2 separate regions of the Homo sapiens genome follow, and region 2 is linked to region 1. Evidence: fine-mapped expression QTL. A gene starts in region 1. The other region holds a variant in brackets. All regions are shown on one strand. Distances are from middle to middle.

Region 1 (11,712 bases):
TCCTCAACCTCCCAAAATGCTGGGATTACAGGTGTGAGCTACCATGCCCAGCCAAAATGACCATTTTCTTCAATGTAGAAAAATTTCTGCATCTCATCATATGGGAGTTGTCTTTCTAGTAACCACTGACTTAAAAAAAAATCATTGCATTTATGGATCCCTGGCACATTTGCATAATTCTATTTTATTTATTTATTTATTTTTTTACAGACAGGGTCTGTCTCCGTCACCCAGGCTGGAATACAGTTGGCACAGTCATAGCTCACTACAGCCTCAAACTCCTTGGCTCAAGCGATCTTCCCACCTTTGCATATTTCTACAGCTTTCCAGGGACCTGCTTGCCCATTGATTGGGAATCCTAACCTATGGAATTAAATTTCAACCCTTTATAATGGACCTGAAAGTTCTTCAAGATCTCCCTTTGCCGGTCTCTTCAACCTAATTTCTCTCCACTCTCCCCATAAACATCCATGCTCCCATAATAAACTTCTTCCTTCTGGAACAGCCATTCTCTCACCTCTAGGCTTTGTCCTTGCTTTTCCTTTTTCCCAGAATGACACCTGTCACCTCCCTTCCTCTTTTCTCTCCTCTCCTTTCTATTACAATTCATGCCATCTTGCAAGACTCAGCTCAAGTGTTACTTCTCCTAAGAGCCTGCTCTGGTGGTGTTCTGTCCTTCTCCTTTGCCTTTTCCCATGCTGAGTTGGATACTCCGTCTCCTTCTTTCTGTTCCCTTAGCACTCTGAGCATCTCTGAGTGGACCTCTTATTAGCTTTTTTATTTTTTTTGAGACAGTCTTGCTCTGTTGCCCAGGCTGGAGTGCAGTGGCATGACCTCAGCTCACTGCAACCTCTGCCTCCTGGGTTCAAGTGATTCTTGTGCCTCAGCCTCCTAAGTAGCTGGGACTACAGGCAGGCACCACCACACCCAGTTAATTTTCTGTGTTTTTGTATTTTTAGTAGAGACGGGATTTTGCCATGTTGGCCAGGCTGGTCTTGAACTCTTGACCTCAGGTGATCTGCCTGCCTCGGCCTCCCAAAGCGCTGGGATTACAGGTACCTCTTATTTGCTTTGCATAGATTTTTTGAGCACCTTCTATGCATGAGCACAGTACTCTCACACTCTGTGACGACACACTCTGGAGATGTCGTCATGGGATATGGAAGGTGGTGGGCCCCTCACTCAACATACTTTTACTTCCTTTGAGGCCTAGGACTGTGTCTTTGTGATAAGGTGCTCAGGGTGCATAAAGTTGAACTCCAATGGAAAAGAGGTGAATGGATGGGTGGTTTGGTAGTATCCTTGGTTTTCCTTTTCTTAGCAGATTAGATTCCCACCGCCTTCCATGATAAGCATGGTGAAATAATGAAATACAGTGGCATCCTTAGAAGATGACAAACAGGACCCATTTCATGAAGCCACCCAGGGAGTTCTTTTTCCCCAGAAGACTAACAAAGGTGGAGGGATGAGGTGGCCAGGAGGGCATGAGTTGCCAGAGTTAAGGGTAAAATGAGTGGCCCCAGAGCATGACCCAGGTGACTGGCCCCACATAGACTTTCACTGGTCTGTACCAAACTCGTGAAGCTGACCACCCCTAATTTCTTCTCCCTGATTTCCTCCCTTCACTCCCAAGAGGCTCAGAGGATGTTGACTCCAAGTCCTGAGCTGTAGAGGAAAGGATGAGAAAAGGATCTGGGGACCTTGAACCTCTTGTCCCAAGACAAAGCAATCATGGTCCCCACTTATCACAACTACCACCAACATCAAATGCCTTCCTGCATATGGCTTTCCTTCATTACAAGCATCCATTAAGCTCCTGACACTCAATGTCAAGAGTCACACCGGATGCTGGGGTTATAGAGATGAACAAGTCTGCTTTGGCTTCCCAGCCCACAGGTACTCGCAGACTAGGTGGGGAGACAGACTGAAAAACGCAACATGCCGGGCACGGTGGCTCACGCCTGTAATCCCAGCACTTTGGGAGGCCAAGGTGGGCAGATCACGAGGTCAGGAGTTCAAGACCACCCTGGCCAACATGGTGAAACCCCATCTCTACTGAAAATACAAAAATTAGCCAGGCATGGTGGCACGTGCCTGTAATCCCAGTTATTTGGGAGGCTGAGGTAGGAGAATCGCTTGAACCCAAGAGGAGGAGGTTGCAGTGGGCTGAGATCACACCACTGCACTCCAGCCTGGGTGACAGAGCGAGATTCTGTCTCAAAAAAAAAAAAGGAAAGAAAGAAAGAAAGAAAAAAGCAACACAGTGGTTACACTCCGGGCAGCAAGAGGCCCAAGGCTGCTATGTTTCCAGAGCTTCCAGCCTAGCAGGCAGATACACCACACACACACAGGCACACACACCACACCCCATAGTCAGTGTGGCTGTGAGCAAACACACAGACCATAAAGTAATAAAAATATAGCAGATAAAATAAATGAGTTATTTGAATGTTGAAAGTAAGCCTTCTTTTATGGATATTGCAGGAGGATAAGTAATGGGCTCCCTTTCCCAGAATGGGGTGTGGTAAGAATGAACTTTGGAAAGGGGCAGGGCCTGCAGGGGTGGGAGTTCTGAGTGTCTGGCACAACAACTGGGGAGAAAATAGGAATCAGGCCCAAGGGAGGAAGAGACCTGAAGCTGTTGTGGCTGAGCCAAAGGGGTAGGCAGGGGTGCAGGAGAAGCAAAGGCACATCACACAGAGAAGAAGAATGCAGGCTGGGTAGCCCAACAGGCCTGGGTTTGAATCCCAGCCTCATCAACTACCCACTGTATGATTTTCCTTTTTTTTTTTTTTTTGAGTCTTTCTCTGTTTCCCAGGCTGGAGCGCAGTAGCACAATCTTGGCTCATTGCAACCTCTGCCTCCCAGGTTCAAGGGATTCTTCTGCCTCAGCCTCCCGAGTAGCTGGGATTACAGGCATGTGCCACCACGCCCAGCTAATTTTGTATTTTTAGTAGTTGGGGTTTCACCTTGTTGGCCAGGCTGGTCTCAAACTTCTGACCTCAGGTGATCCACCCGCCTCGGCCTCCCAAAGTGTTGAGTTCCATGTGTGAGCCACCGCGCCTGGCCCACTGTATGATCTGTATGATTTTCTTTTCTTTTCTTTTTTTTTGAGACGGAGTCTTTCTCTGTCACCCAGGCTGGAGTGCAGTGGCGCGATCTCGGCTCACTGCAACCTCCGCCTCCTGGGTTCAAGTGATTGTCCTGCCTCAGCCTCCTGAGTAGCTGGGACTACAGGCACGTGCCACCACACCCAGCTAATTTTTTGTGTTTTTAGTAGAGACGGGGTTTCACCGTGTTAGCCAGGATGGTCTCGATCTCTTGACCTTGTGATCCACCCACCTTGGCCTTCTAAAGTGTTGGGATTACAGACGTGAGCCACCGCACCTGGCCCACTGGATGATTTTCAACATGTTACGTAATTAATCTTTGGCTTCCTTGCCTTTAAAATCTGGTTAATGATGGTACCCACATTATAAGGTTGTTAGAAGAATCACATTAGATAAGGCTTGTAAAACATTTAGATCTACACTGGCACGTGGGCATGTTTATCACGTAATAAGCAAGCTAACAACAACAATAATGGATGGCAAGGTAGGCTGCCTACACGGTGCCTCGGGGCTCTGTGCTTCCTTGTCCAAAGCTGGTGCAGCCCTGGTATATCCTCCTCACCTCTCTACATGTGCTGCCCCTCTCCCAGGGTCCCATCTGCTAAATCAGCAGAGAACTGAGAGATTCCTGGTCAGAAACCTACCATACCTCTCTCTGCCTCCTTCTAGCTGCTGGGAGCCCCGATGACTAAAGTCTCCTGAAGGAGATAGAGTCGATGCCCTGGATGCCAGACCAATTATGTGCTTATCTACCCACAGACCCTGAAGTTCCCTGTGGCCTTGGAAAAGTGCAGAAACCCGCCAAAGGCCCATGCTCCTACACTCTTTGGGAACACAGAAGCATGTGCCTTTGGCAGGCTCTCCCCCAGAGCCTCTGCAGTCAGCAGAGGCAGGTTCTCTCCCAGAGCCTCTGGCTTTGGGACAGCCTCCCTGGAGTCAGTAGCTGGGCAGAACTGTTCTCAAACATCCTTCTGCTCCACGTGAGTCACCTTGGGGAGCTGTGGGTGGGGCTGAAGTGCTGGTGGTCCCTGCTTCCATCAACTCACCTGGGCTGGGTCTTCCAGACCCACCCTGTCCTGTTCTGCCCAGCCTGTTGGTTCAAGGAAGAGAGATAGATACACCTTGAGGGCAGGGCAGTGCCTTGCTCTTGAGATGTCCCAGACAGCCCCGAGCACATAGTTGGGGCCCAGTTAAGTGTGTGTTTAATCATGGAGGAGCCTGAGCAATTCCTACAGTCTGAGTCAGGCTGACTCAGATGGGAGCCAAATTCCCATGAAAGATCCCTGAAAAGGCCCTTAATTCAGCTCTATGAGCCATTTTCAGAGCAGTTTTTCAATCCGTTCTATAATAATAATGATCATATATGACATATATATATATTTTGAGATGGAGTCTCACTCTGTTGCCCAGGCTGGAGTGCAGTGGCGCAATCTGGGCTCATTGCAACCTCCGCCTCCCAAGTTCAGGTGATTCTTCCGCCGCAGCCTCCCGAGTAGCTGAGTAGCTGGGACTGCAGGCATGCACCACCACGCCGGGATGGTTTTTGTTTTTGTTTGTTTGTTTGTTTTTTGTTTTGTTTTGTTTTTGAGATGGAGTCTCACTCTGTCGCCCAGGCTGGAGTGCGGTGGCGCAATATCGGCTCACTGCAACCTCCGCCTCCCGGGTTCAAGCAGTTCTCCTGCCTCAGCTTCCTGAGTAGCTGGGATTACAGGCGTACGCCACCACGCCCAGCTAATTTTTGTATTTTTAGTAGAGACAGGGTTTCACCATGTTGATCAGGCTGGTCTCAAACTCCTGACCTCGTGATCCACCCGCCTCAGCATCCCAAAGTGCCGAGATTACAGGCGTGAGCCACCGTGCCCAGCGTGTTTTTTGTTTTTTTCAGAGATGGGATTTCACCATGTTGATCAGGCTGGTCTCGAATTCCTGACCTTAGGTGATCCGCCTGTCTCAGCCTCCCAAAAGTGCTGGGATTACAGGCGTGAGCCACCGCGCCTGGCCCATATATGATATTTCATATAGGGAGAGTTTACAAAGCATGAGAAATACAGCCACAGTATGTTGTAAACTGTCATGAGTTACTAGTGTGTTTATTTAAGCCTCTAAACAGAAATACCCTGAGATAGGATAGCTGTTATCTCCATGTGGGGAAACTGTGGCTATCAGATAGGTTATAGAAATGGTCCAAGACCTCACTGGGCAGAATCTAGGTCTTCCTGCTGCTGTATCACACTATGCATTTCAATCAAAAATTTACTAAGCCTCAAGTGTTGTGCTGTGGTGAACAGGAGCTGGGGAAGGAATATTTAGAAATGGCATACCCAGGGCCGGGCGCGGTGGCTCACGCCTGTAATCCCAGCACTTTAGGAGGCTGAAGCGGGAGAATCACGAGGTCAGGAAATCGAGACCATCCTGGCTAACACGGTGAGACCTCGTCTCTACTAAAAATACAAAAAAATTAGCCGGGCGTGGTGGCGGGCGCCTGTAGTCCCAGCTACTGGGGAGGCTGAGGCAGGAGAATGGCGTGAACCCAGGAGGCAGAGCTTGCAGTGAGCCGAGATCGTGTCACTGCACTCCAGCCCGGGCGACAGAGCGTGACTCCGTCTCAAAAAAAAAAAAAAAAAAAAAAAAAAAAGAAAAGGCATACCCAGCGCTGTGAGATCCTGGGGGATCTGGCCTCAGCCTACCCTCCCTCCTTACTCTACCCACTTCTTGGCCAATCTCAGACTCTCCCTTAGCTTCAGCCACCACTCGGACCACAGATTAGCCAGCTTGTGACTCTCCAAGCTGTATCTCCAGCCCCGACAACTCCCTCGAACTCCAAAATTATAGACCCAAGTGCCTTCTGCACACTTTCCATCTGGGGGTCTCCCAGCATTGCCAGACTAGGTTCAAAGCTAGACCCCCTCCTCCCCAACACCTGCTCAGCATCCTGCATCCCTGTCTCAGGTGGTGGTTCCCACCTAATCACCTAGGTGTCATCCTTAGTGTCTCTCTCCTCCACCCAAACAGCCAATCAATTGCCAAGTCCTATACATTTTCCTCCTAAATATTCCTCAGATCCAGCCCTTCCCCTTCCTCCTCATATCTTGTGTCCCAGCTCAGGCTATAATCCCTCGATAACAACCTCCTTCCAGCCTCCTTGTCCCCAGTCTTATCTCCCATGCATCCATCATCCCAGCAGCCTATCTGTACAGGTTCCTCCCTGCCTCAAACCCCTTCTGTGATTCCTCTGTCTGAAGGGATGAAGTCCAAGTTCCTTAATAAGTCTCCCTTTGATATGGCCTTTCCACCCTTACAGCCTCTCCTCTAGCCACTCGCTGCCTCAAACCATCTACGGTATAGAGGTTGGCCTGCCCGCGGAGCCGACTTCATCTTGAAATTCTTCATCATTTTGTAACAAGCAGCTGTGCATTTCCATTTTGCACTGGACCTCACAAATTACGTTGCCCGTCCTGCCTGCCTGTTGTTGCTTGCACCCCTCTTGCAGTTTGTGGCCACCTAAGCTTTGTCTGTGTAGTCTCCTCCACCTAAAACTCCTCTTCCCACATCACCCAGCTATCTTCAGCTCTTCGTTTAGACTCAATGTAGGTGTTCTCTTTGGGACGTCTCACCGACTCTCTTCCTTCCCCTTCCCTGCCCTAATCGCCCAACACGTTGCAGGTGCTCAACCATGTCTATTAGAGAAACTGAATGAGGAGGCAAAGCATGACAAGTGCCACAAGAGACCTGCACACTGCTCTGGATGGTAAAGCGACGCAAGGAGGGAAGAAGGTATTTGCAACGGCCTCCCAGATCGGCGCTAGGACCCCGCCAGCAGACGTCTCAATCTGCGTGGAGAAGACCCAGTGCCCGCCAGGGGAAGCGGCTGCCAGGCTGGGCTCTCGAGCGCCGCCTGTCGCAATCCCACGGCCGCTGCAGCGCACCCCCTCCCGTCCCCTGCCCTGAGCCCGCCTCGCGTCTCCAATTGGCTGTCTCCATTCTCCCGCCCCTCCCGAGCTCAGCCATTCGGAGCCTGGGGTGGGCGGGGCTTGAGGCCTGAGTGGAGCGTAAACCCTGATTGGCTGTACGGAAGGCGGCGACGTGGCCGAAGGATGCCCGTTTGTGTCTAAACGGAGGCTCGGCCACAACGCCACTGGATTGGTGGTAGGGCGGGGCGGGCCACAGTCTCCAGCCTGAAGCGGAAGTGGAGGAAAGATGGAGGTGTGGGGACAGGAGCTGGGTGTGCTGGGGACTGGCCGCGGACCCCTAACCTGTGTCTCCGGTCTCCCTCCGGAAGCGGCTCAACCCAGCCCATCGCTCTGGCCCCGTTCTGGCCCTGCAGGGTGGTGGTTGGGACGTTGAAATGAGCGCGCGAGTGGTACGTCCTCTCTCCGCGCTCACGCCCCCCTCCTCACCGTGTTTCCCGCCAGGACCATCAGCACGTGCCCATCGACATCCAGACCAGCAAGCTGCTCGGTAGGAGGGGGCGCCACCGCGCAGCTGGCTGTCGGGGGGAGGCCTGTGCGTTGCCCCCTGTGTCCAATAGCCGGGAGCTCTGACCCCTGAAAGCCTGAGTCGAGATGCTGACCACTGGCCTCGTTCTATGCCCCATCTGTGGCCAGACCTGCTTCCCTGATAGCAGCGGGAACGAACCATATGTACAGTCTGTTTGACCTGCGTTTTCTCCTTTAATAACATATGTTATCGTATCATTCAGGGACAGGATAAATGACTCGCTTTAAAAACAGTCAACCACTGCCGGGCGCGGTGGCTCATGCCTGTAATCCCAGCACTTTGGGAGGCCGAGGTGGGCGAATCACCTGAGGTCAGGAGTTCGAGACCAGCCTGACCAACATGGAGAAACCTTGTCTCCATGTCTCCATGACTAAAAATACAAAAAAATAAAAATAAAAAGTAGCCGGGCATGGGAGCACATGCCTGTAATCCCAGCTACTCGGGAGGCTGAGGTGGGAGAATTGCTTGAACCCCGGAGGCAGAGGTTGCGGTGAGCAGAGATCTCACTATTGCACTCCAGCCTGGGCAACGAGAGCGAAACTCCATCTCAAAAAGAAGACAAAAAACAGTCAACCACTAAGTGGCACATCTGAATTGGAACTTAAGTCTGTCTGACCCACTGTCCATGCCTTTTGCATTATGCCAGGAAAAAAAAAAAAAACCTCATTTAAAAAGCTTCCACCTCCCCCTTGATTTTAGGAGGAAGAGGGACCTAAGACCCAGTTGCAAATGAAAACCTTTTAGTGTCCAGGCCATCTCCAGGTTGTCTGTATGGGGCTTACATACTTCCTCCCCAGTTCATAGTCAGGGAAGGCCTCTTCATCTGATCACACAGCTCCTGGCATTTTAAAATGCTTATTGGATTCATGGATTTGATGCCAATCTTGTCCTTAAGATGGTGTCTGTTTGACTACCCCAGTCCGTTGCTTCTAGTTCTGTGACATCAACAGAATTTTTCTTTCTGAAAACTTTACAGGAATATAGCAGAGAGAGTATAACTGATACTAGTGTGGGACCCCAGCGTTTGACCGGTTGGCAGAGTTCAAGTTCTGAATTCACCACTCTGTAGTGCCATTTAGTCAGTCCTGCTTGGTGGTCACGGGGGAAGCTTCTTTAGCCTCCCTTCAGATTTGTACTGGCCCTTCAGCCCATGTGCAGTCTTGGTGTGTGAGCTTGTTCTTGGTCATGAAAAGGACCAATAAAATGACCACCATTCATTGAGGGTTTTTTTTTGTACCAGGTGCTGTTTTAGGCACTTGACATGATAAAAATGATCACTGTCATTTTTTGAGTCCTTGCCGTGTCTCAGGCACACTGTTCAGTGTTTTACCTGCATTCCCTTTTCTAGTCAGTGTCTTATTATTCCCCATTTTACATGTGGGAAAACTGAGGCACAGAATAGTAGACTTGCTCAAGAAACTTGATAACGAGAACCCAGGACCATCTGACCACAAAGCTCAGCTCTTAGCTCTCACTGAGGAAATATGCATGGCTCTGAAGCCACAAATCTGGGCCCAGACTTTGAGAGGTCAGTCCCATTGGTATTCACATGTACAGGGTGGTACTTCACTGTTCACAACAGAGTCATGTTATCTAGTCCTTAGGGCGCTGTAGGTATTAGGGGCTTTGCAGCTGTTCATTCATCCAGTACTTGGCATAACCATCTTGTATTTTCCATTGTCATGGTTAACCCCAGCCCTGAGGAAATGGAAGTTGAGCAGCATCCTCTTGTCAGGAAGAAAGATATAATTACCCATAGAAGCAAAAATATTATGGGGAATTGAGAATGGTCAAAAGTGGCACTTTCAGGACCAATTTAAACTTTTTGTTATCCCTGTGTTGAGGCAATTGCTCTATAAAAATCACACTGCTAATGAAGTCAGATTGTCAGAGCCTGGTTTAGCCCCAGGCATCTCTTTGGGCTTGTCTTTATTCCCATCTTCCCATGACCCCCATACTTTAACCAATGTAAAGAAAACTTTTAGACTAATTTCAGTGTATTTCACTCGAATTAGTGATGGAATTTTGGTGATGTGAATGGGAATGCTCTAATTTGGGTGCTTCTCATGTAGATTGGCTGGTGGACAGAAGGCACTGCAGCCTGAAATGGCAGAGTCTGGTGCTGACGATCCGCGAGAAGATCAATGCTGCCATCCAGGACATGCCAGAGAGCGAAGAGATCGCCCAGCTGCTGTCTGGGTCCTGTGAGTGCTTAGGGGCTGTCACTGGAGTCCCCTCTTTGCTGAGGTAGTATGTATCAGCTGAGCTACTCTCTTGTTATTTAGCCACCAGGGCTGGCCTTTAGAGAGGGAGCGATTTTTATTTGAGGTATAGATGCTGGCTTCTTCCACTATGAAATGATTTAGGGAAAAGCTACACACTAAAGTTACTGGCAGTATATTATACATGAATCAGCCACCTGCAGTGCCCAGAGTAGGTGAAGAAGATACTTTAGTTCTCGAAATCCCGTCTCTTGCTTTCTAGACATTCACTACTTTCACTGCCTAAGAATCCTGGACCTTCTCAAAGGCACAGAGGCCTCCACGAAGAATATTTTTGGCCGATACTCTTCACAGCGGATGAAGGCAAGTGTGGGCCAAGGGCCGGTAGTATGTGGTTGGGGACATCCAATCCGAGGAGTCATAGCCTCTGTGGTCTCTCTGAGGCTCCAGTGGGGATGCCTACATAGAATATTTCCTGAACTTTCACTCTGTCTCTATAGTTTACTCCAAAAGTGGATCCTATCCCTGAGTTTAATTTTCAAACCCACTGCTTTAGGGATTGCCTGCACTCTTAAAGTGGGTGGTCCAGCCAGCAGAGTTGAAAGAAGGACAAGGAGTTTGTGTTTGATGTGATGTAAAGGCTGGGAGAACTTACCCTGTTTAGGGATTGAGCTGGGATGTGGCTGTCGAGTGCTTTTCTGGCTTAACATTGTTTTTCTGTTCTTACTCAGGATTGGCAGGAGATTATAGCTCTGTATGAGAAGGACAACACCTACTTAGGTAAAGTGGCCCGGCCTGGGAGCCCTGGTATCCATGGGGAAGCCCACTCTCAGAGTTCTGAGATACCAGGCTTATAGGAGGCACAGTCTGTGAGTGGGAAGAGACTGGAGTGTAGATGTTGCCCATTTGTAGGTGGTAAAATCAATTGTTTTTGATGGAATTGATTTTCCCTGAGTGGAGTGCTGGGGGAAGGAGGAGGTCCAGGCCGGTAGTGGCCATTCGCCGTGCCTCAGCGAGCAGGTGTGTGTGGGTCCTCCACCACTCACCTCTTGGTTAGCGGGAGTGTGCTGCCCCCACCCCCACCCCCGCACCCCCATTCTACACAAGGCAGAAGAGGCACGGGTTTTTCTGGGAGCGAATATCAAGTGCCTGAGAGCAACTACAGGACTAACTGTGTTTGGGTTGGGTGTAGTATAAATAATAATAATGGCTAATATTTCCTGAGCATCTACTAAATGCAAGGAATTGTGCTTGGTGTGTCATGTGGATTCTCTCTTGCATCTTCATGATAAATGTTATTGTCGCTGTTTTACCGATGAGGGTTGGATTAGAGGGGTTAAACAACTTGTCTTAGGCTCCACAGCTGGGAACAAGTGGGGCTGGGAAGCTGACTTCGTGCTCTTCACCACCACAAAGGATGTGTGTGCATCCTGGGGCATGCCTGCCTCATGTGGGGGTGTCCTGGGCTGAATTTCCTGGGCACTTCTCAGTGGAACTCTCTAGCCTCCTGGTTCGGAATGTCAACTATGAGATCCCCTCACTGAAGAAGCAGATTGCCAAGTGCCAGCAGCTGCAGCAAGAATACAGCCGCAAGGAGGAGGAGTGCCAGGCAGGGGCTGCCGAGATGCGGGAGCAGTTCTACCACTCCTGCAAGCAGTATGGCATCACGGTGAGCGGCGGCAGCCTCTTCGCAGCCAGAGGACACCTGGGCCCCTGCTTGTCTTCCTCTGACCCCGTCTGACCCCTCAGCCTGGTTGCACCCCCTTTGGGCCAGTGTCTTACTTTTCTTCGGTCTTTGGATGTTTTCTTCAATCTGTTGGACTCCACCTCTTCTCCCCTCTCTAGGGCGAAAATGTCCGAGGAGAACTGCTGGCCCTGGTGAA
Region 2 (8,240 bases), 73 kb after region 1:
TGATAGGTCTCTCCTGTCACATTCTCTCAGTTCCTATTTCTTTCTTTCATTGCACTTTTTTCAATCTCTAAATATTATTTTTACTAATATTGCTTGTTTGAGACACGGTCTCACTCTGTTGCCCAGGCTGGAGTGCAGTGACTCGATCTGGGCTCACTGCAGCCTCAACCTCCTGGGCTCAGGCAATCCTCCCATCTCAGTCTCCCGAGTAGCTGGGACCACTGGTGCATGCAACCACTCCCAGGTAATTTTTTATTTTTTTATTTTTTTTATTTTTGTAGAAACAAGGTCTCAAGTCTGGGCTCAATGGCTCACATCTGTAATCCCAGCACTTTGGGAGGCTGAGGTGGGCAGAAGGCTTGAGCCCAGGAGTTCCAGACCAGCCTGGGCAACATGGTAAGATCTAGTCTCTACTAAAACTACAAAGAAATTAGCCAGGTAGGGTGGTGTGACCTGTAGTCCCAGCTACTCAGAAGGCTGAGGTGGGAGAATCACCCGAGTCTGGGGGTTCAAGGCTGCAGAGCCATGATCATGCCACTGTGCTCCAGCCTGGGCAATGGGAGTGAGAATCTGTTTCAAAAAAAAAAAAAAGAAGAAGAAGAAGAAGAGAAAAAGAAAGGAAGAGGAGGAGGAGGGGGAGGAGGGTGATCATGATCAAGGTCTCACTATGTTGCCCAGGCTGGTCTTGAACGCCTAGGCTCAAGTGATCCTCCCACCTCAGCCTCCCAAAGTGTTGGGATACAGGCGTGAACCACCATTCCCAGCCTTTACTAGTTTGTTTATAAGTGTTCCTTCTCCCCGCCCAGACTTTGAGCCCTGCAAGAACCAATGAATGTGACTTTTTGTTTGTTTGTTTTTTTGTTTTGAGACAGGGTCTTGCTCTATCACCCAGGCTGGAGTACAGTGGTGTGATCATAGTTCACCGCAGCCTCAAATTCCCAGTGTCGGCCGGGCACGGTGGCTCACGCCTGTAATTCCAGCTCTTTGGAAGGCCGAGACAGGCGGATCACGAGGTCAGGAGTTTGAGACCAGCCTGGCCAACATGGTGAAACCCCATCTCTACTAAAAATACAAAAAAATTAGCCGGGGGTGGTGGCAGGTGCCTGTAATCCCAGCTACTCGGGAGGCTGAGGCAGGAGAATCACTTGAACCTGGGAGGTGGAGGTTGCAGTGACCCGAGACCGCACTACAGCACTCCAGCCTGGCCAAGAGAGCGAGAACCTGCTACCCACCCACCCACCCACACACACACACACACACAAACAACTCCCAGGATCAAGCCATTCTCCTGTCTCAGTCTCCTGAGTAGGTGGGACGATACACACGTGCCACCATGCCTGGTTATTTATTATTATTTTTTTTAAAGGCAGGGTCTTGCTGTGTTGTCCAGGCAGGTCTTGAACTCCTGGGATCAAGCCCTCCTCCTGCCTCGGCCTCCCAAAGCCCTGAGATTACAGGTGTGACCCACCTCACCTGGCCAATTATGTTTGTCTTGTTCACTGTGGAATCCCTAGTGTTTCTTACAAGGCTTGGTGACAGATTTTTTTTTTTTTTTTTTGAGACGGAGTCTTGCTCCGTCACCAGGCTGGAGTGCAGTGGCGAGATCTCGGCTCACTGCAACCTCCGCCTCACGGGTTCCAGTGATTCTCCTGCCTCAGCCTCCCGAGTAGTTGGGACTACAGGTGCACACCACCACGCCCAGCTAATTTTTGTATTTTTAGTAGAGACAGGGTTTCACCATGTTGGCCAGGATGGTCTCGATCTCTTGACCTTGTGATCTGCTTGCCTCGGCCTCCCAAAGTGCTGGGATTACAGGCATGAGCCACTGCACCTGGCCGATGACAGATATTTAATAAGCATTTGTGAAGTAAATGAATAAAGGAATTCAGGATGAGGGAGATCATGTATAAATATTCACAAATACCAAATTTTAACTAATAATAATTAAAATGTACCTATCAATGATACCATATTGGCTGGGTGTGGTGGCTCATACCTGTAATCCCAGCACTTTGAGAGGCCAAGGCGGGCAGATCACTTGAGACCAGGAGTTCGAGACCAGCCTGGCCAACATGGTGAAACCCTGATTCTACTAAAAACACACAAAAATCAGCCAGGCATGGTGGCGAGTGCCTGTAGTCCCAGCTACTTGGGAGGTGAAGGCAGGAGAATCATTTGCACCCAGGAGGCAGAGGCTGTAGTGAGCCAAGATCACACCACTGCAGCCTCAGCAACAGAGCAAGACTCTATCTCCAAAAAAAAAAAAAAAAAAAAGACAACATATTTTATGTGCTGTACAAATATTTATTGAGTGCTTAGTATGTACCAGATATTTTTCTAGCCACTGGGACACAATAGTAGACAAAAGAAAAATTTTGCTCTCATGGAACTTACAATCAAGTGTTTGTGTATGTACATGCGTGCGTTTCTGTGCAAGATATAATACACAAATAAATGGGAAAAGTAGATATTATATGAGTTGGGGATAAGTGCTGCAAAGAAAAATAGAGCAGAAATGGGATGTGGAATGTGAGGGGTAAGGGACAGGCAAGCCAGAAAGCCATTTTCATAGTCCTCTGAGAAAACCTTTAACAAGGTGACATTTGAACAAAGAGCTAAAGGAAAGGAGGAAGCAGGCCATGCAGACATCTGAGGAAGCATCTACTGACCCTCCCTATATGATGACTTAGAAGGCACATCTGAACCTTTCTTGCAGGCTATCAGTTATAATAGGGAACATAATGACACTATTTGATAACAGCAGCCAGGGAAAAGACCCAGCATTTGGGCATTTTATTTCTTCGGATTCCAGATCATCAGAAGTTATGTCAATGGTCATGCTGGCTGGGTATGTTATTTCTAAAAAATACTGATTTGGTTATTTTGATGTCTTAATATTTCTGTGAGCTAGTCCATTTTTTTTTTTTTTTTGGCTCATATTTACAAGGACAGCACCAAAAAGCCTCCAGGAGCATTTCTCAGCCTCTGTTTGGCTATGGTACCCACTATGAAAGACCAGCAGCCTCCAGAAGGGACAGAGGAAGACCTGGGAAGATAGGGGACTTAGGGGGCTGGCTCCATAGGGGAGGTGGGGAAGGAGTCAGTTATACACGTTAGGGATGGGAAGGCACTGGAGAGGGGCCAAGGGGATAGGAATGAGAGAAGGCTGGGGAAGGAAGCTTAGGAACCACAAAGTTCTCATCACCCCCACATCTATCACTGTTGTTGCTTTTTCTTTTTCTTTTTTTCTTTTTTTTGAGAAGGAGTTTCACTCTTGTTGCCCAGGCTGGAGTGCAATGGGGTGATATTGGCTCACTGCAATCTCCGCCTCCCAGGTTCAGGCGATTCTCCTGTCTCAGTCTCCTGAGTAGCTGGGATTACAGGTATGCGCCACCACACCCAGCTAATTTTTTTTATTTTTAGTAGAGACAGGGTTTCACTATGTTGTTTGGCTGGTCTTGAACTCCTGACCTCAGGTGATCCGCCTGCCTTGGCCTCCCAAAGTGCTGGGATTACAGGCGTGAACCACCGCGCCTGGCCTTGTTGTTCCTCTTCTTAAAATCTCTTTACATCTTTTCTTTTTTTTGAAATGGAGTCTCACTCTGTCGCCCAGGCTGGAGTGCAGTAGCACGATCTCGGCTCACTGCAACCTCTGCCTCCCGGGTTCAAGCAATTCTCCTGCCTCAGCCTCCCAAGTAGCAGGGATTACAGGTGCGTGCCACCATGCCCGGCTAATTTTTGTATTTTTAGTAGAGACGGGGTTTCACCATGTTAGCCAGGTTGTTCTCCAACTCCTGACCTTAAGTGATCTGCCCACCTTGGCCTCCCAAAGTGCTGGGATTATAGGCGTAAGCCACCGTGCCTGGCCCATAAAATCTCTTTACATCTTAGTTTAGTGGTGAATAAGTAAATTCAGAGCCAAGTTCAACTTTTCAAGGACAAGATTCTCCCCAATGATAACCCCTCCCCAAACTCCTTCAACAGAGACCCCAGAACTTCTTTCTCTCCATGACAACCGCTTCCCCACACATCCTGAAGTGCACCTTTAATGCAGTTTCACATAAACATG[T/C]GAGCTATGTGTGTCCAGTATTGGGACAGTGTCTTCCACAGAGCATGGCCCTAAGAGGACTTTCCAGTTTAAGGCTGGCAGCACATGAGAAGCATGCACGTGCAGCAGCAGACTCGGCAGGAGAGCCTCCCCAGCTCGAGGAAGCCAAGTTGGGTTCAAAAAGAATGCAGCCTTCATGTTTCTCTGCCCTCTACTCCCTTCGGGTAGGCACAGTAGGATGGAGAGGTGGGCTGTGCACATCCCTACCCAGCTGGAACCTGTGAAGTAGTGCACTCAGAATTGGTCCCTGCCCTTTGGAGTCCCAGGAGGCAGGTGATTCAAAGCAGGTTCTCCTCTGGGCCTTGGTATAGCTTGAAGGGGAGACCATTTCATTTCCTCTGAGTCACCCTCCTGCTGCCACATTTCTGTGCTGTCTGTCCTAGGATTTCAGCATCTGTTCTTATGTGACGAGAAGAAACAGCTCCCTTGGGTACCAGCCTCTCTCTATCCCTCCTGCTTAATGTCAAGAGGGGGAGGTGTGTGTGGAATATGAGGCGTGGAAGTGTGTACTGGTGGCATCCTCTAGAGAAAACTAAAGCTTCCATGCTCTGTCTGTAGGATGGGTTTCTAGTAGACCATTCTAAGGACAGCTCTCATTTCTTCATCGCCTTTGGCTTTCTCTGAGATAAAGTTGTAGGGTGGGTGGAGAGAGGATTATTCAAGACAGGGCCTTATACTCAGCTCTTCCTCCAGGCATGAATGGCTTTATACACATGACCTGATTTTTAAGATTTATGAATATGTACATTGTTATCTCCATTTAGCTCGGGATGGCCCAACTAGTAAGAAACAGAGCCAGATTTTCGAACCCACCTATGAGTCCAAAACATCCACTCCTCCTACCTCTTAATGGCAGCTCCTTGAGTGTGACATGTCACACAGAGCTATATGAAGAACACTACCTGGTATTGTTTGAGACAACATAGCAAGACATACAGGACAGTTGAACTCAGCTTCAAAAAATGTTACACTAAGACACTAATGAACAATGAGGCATTTTCATTGTAGAGGTGAAGAAAGAACATTTTAGGGTTGAGAATGAGCACACCCTAAAAGTCAAACGGGCCGGGTGCAGTGGCTCACGCCTGTAATCCCAGCACTTTGGGAGGCTGAGGTGGGCAGATCACTTGAGGTCAGGAGTTTGAGACCAGCCTGGCCAACATGGCAAAACCCTGTCTCTACTAAAAATACAAAAATTAGCCAAGCGTGGTGGTGTGCACCTTTAATACCAGCCACTCAGGAGGCTGAAGCAGGAGAATCGCTTGAACTGGGGAGGCAGAGGTTGCAGTGAGCTGAGATGGTGTCACTGCACTCCAGCCTGGACCACAGAGCGACTCCATCTCAAAAAAAAAAGTCAGATAATCATTCTAGTCTGTGTTCCCGTATTACCACAATCTTTTGCTTTTTTTTTTTTTTTTTTTTTTTTACCCCAATGTGGATTCTTGCTCCAACCTAGTGATTCTCTACTCTGGCTGTGCATAAGAATCACCTGAAGAGCTTTTACAAAATACTGATGTCCAATTCTGCTCTGGGCAGCTGTTTTAATTGGTGTGGGGTGGGACCTGGGCATTGGTATTTCTTACGAGCTACCCACCTGGGTGATTCTAATATGCAGCCAGGATTGAGAAGCAATCTTCTAAGAGTGTGGTAGTGGTGCATAGGAAAGAGGCTGGCTTGCAGGAGAGCTTTACTTTTTGGTGGTTTAATGGTAACAAGCTTGCTGATGATGTTTACCATATAAGAGAGAGGGCCATATGTCCGGATTTGCCAGAAAACTAATTGATTTCTTTGCAAAACATGCTAACATTTAGTATTGACATGATGTATTCCTACCATCTCTCAGGACTGTAAGGAAATCTCAGGCAATCATCTATCTAATCTATTCCCCTGGATTAGATGAGGTTACAGAGTAAGAAATACTTATATGGATTAGCAAAACTTAAAGACATGTTTTTCTTTTTATTATTTTTTTTGAGACAGGGTCTTACTCTGTTGCCCAGACTGGAGTGCAATGGCGCAATCACAGCTTACTGCACCCTCAACCTCCCCAGGATCGGGTGATCTTTCCACCTCAGCCTCCCCACTAGCTAGGACTACAGGCATGAACCACCACGCCTGGCTAATTTTTGTATTTTTTTTGTAGAGATGGGTTTTCACTATGTTGGCCAGGCTGGTCTCAAACTCCTGGCTCAAGTGATCTGCCCACCTGGGCCTCTCGAAGTGCTGGGGTTACAGGTGTGAGCCACTGTGCCTGGCCTTAGAGACATTTTTAGAGGAAAGATAATGGACAACCAGAATGGCAGAAAGCCTGGGTTTCCCTTTTAGGGAAAAAGCAATTTCACTGTTCCAGAAGAAATCAGAGCCCCAGCCAGCCTGCCCTCCCACAGCCCCTTCTCTGAGGATTCCTGGCATGTGTCATCCTCCAGGGATGACTGCAGGATGGATGTGGCTGTTGGCGGCAGCAGCAGCTTTTCCTACCAGGGAAGCTGGGTCGGTAGACACTACACTGCTATTCCTGGGGTGGGGGTGGGGATTTCCGTGTATGTTTTATAGTTAGCTGGCCCCAAATCCGTGTGCTTTAGACCTAACCCTCTTCTCGGCTTCCACTGCCTTCTTCTCTCTCCTGCCCAGCCTGGAGTCGCAGGGGCAAGGCCTAGTTTTACAATGGCTGCCAGCCTTTCCCTTAGGGAGCCACATGCATGCGCTCACTTTTTCCAGTGGTCTTCTCAGTCTGATTTAATGGATATACCGGGACTGATGACACATCAGCATGGGATCCTTCTTTTGCTTCTTGGGTAACTGTCCTATTAACAGCTGTCCCAGGCAAAGGGAGGGGGAGAGTGTTGGGGGAAAGGAGGGGGTGGCTTCCTGGGTGAAGAAGGACACACCCTGGGTTTTACAAGGTTAATCAGCAGGTTCTGGGAAAGCTTGCACCTGCTCAGACTTGATCTGGAACTCTAGACAGAATGGAAGACAGTCTTTCTGTCTCCACTCCCTTCCATGGAGCATCAAATATCCTGGGCGCCCACACCCTGCCAGGCCTAGGCCTGCTGTTGCGACTGAGTTTGTCTCTACACCTTTACTCTCTTCGGCCCTTGCAACTCTTTCCCTTTTTCTGCCCACCTTTGTGAAATGGCTAAGCAGGAAACTCCACAGATAAACGATTGTCCAGTTTTAGTTTGAACTGTTAGGACTGAAAATTGTTCTGTATTTTTCTGTCAAAAAAAGACCAACTTTAGTATGCTCTTTTCACCTTCTCAAAATTGTCTTGTAGTTAAACACTGTAGTTGAGCCTTTATATCTCTCAATTTTATGTTTTGTTTTGTTGAGGAAGCATCTCACTGTTGCCCAGACTGGCACCATCATAGCTCACTGCAGCCTCAATCTCCCAGCTCAAGAAATCCTCCCACCTCAGCCTCCTGAGTAGTTGGGACTATAGATGTGTGGCACCAAGCCCAGCTTGTTTTTTTGTAGCGACGGGGGTCTCACTATGCTGCCCAGGCTGGTCAAGCAATCCTCCCGCCTCGGCCTCCCAAGGTGCTACTGTGAGCCACTGCGCCGGGCCCAGTTCTATGTTTAAAATACTTCCTTCTCAACCTTATTTATTTTTAGAGTTGATGGCCACACCTAAATATTCCTCCTTTCTTATACAATACCAGTCTTTATCTTCATTGTCTCACTACTTCGGGGACTGAATGGTCTCCTATTTTATTGTTAACATGCCATATCCTTCAAAACTGTACATCCTCCAAGGTGTGGTTAATTTCTGCTTTTAACAGGAAAATCAGAGGCCTGCCTGCTTGAGTCCCCCTTCAAGTACTCAGTATTTGAGTGTCTACTAAGTTATAACAGTTAACGCACAAAATTCTAGTCCTCATGTTGTTTATACTCAGGTATTTATTGGGAGACACGCGTCAGTAGTCCCTGATAAATGGAAAGATCGCTTGAGTCCAGGAGTTCCAGTCCAGCCTAGAATAGGTAAAACATGCTCTCTGAATTAGTCTTTGAAACTGGTAAACTAGCTCAGAAGTTTTTTTAAGAATTCCATGAGTGGTTTGCTGGTGTACGTTTATTATATGCAGTGAAAGTACTTAATCTGCAAACCACCCCAAATTAAGCCCCTAACTCGCAA

The links. PIP is the estimated chance that this variant, and not a neighbour inherited with it, causes the effect.
Region 2: its variant is fine-mapped to the expression of CDK5RAP3 in whole blood (INTERVAL, PIP above 0.99).

What each region holds. Positions count from the first base shown.
Region 1 is chr17:47,963,840-47,975,551 of GRCh38, forward strand. It overlaps CDK5RAP3 (CDK5 regulatory subunit associated protein 3), which reads left to right and starts at 7,274. Exons shown (of 14, transcript NM_176096.3): 1 at 7,274-7,313; 2 at 7,523-7,568; 3 at 9,680-9,811; 4 at 10,092-10,192; 5 at 10,561-10,609; 6 at 11,320-11,498; 7 at 11,675-11,712. The coding sequence starts at 7,308. RefSeq lists a silencer at 6,925-7,214 and enhancers at 7,636-8,263, 11,560-11,712.
Region 2 is chr17:48,038,894-48,047,133 of GRCh38, forward strand. It overlaps NFE2L1-DT (NFE2L1 divergent transcript), which reads right to left. Exons shown (of 2, transcript NR_170231.1): 2 at 7,988-8,077. It also overlaps a transcript of COPZ2 not described here. Among named protein-coding and RNA genes, the nearest start is that of NFE2L1-DT, 5.0 kb to the right of the region's middle. RefSeq lists enhancers at 21-70, 8,238-8,240. The variant T/C (reference allele first, on the strand shown) is at 4,070.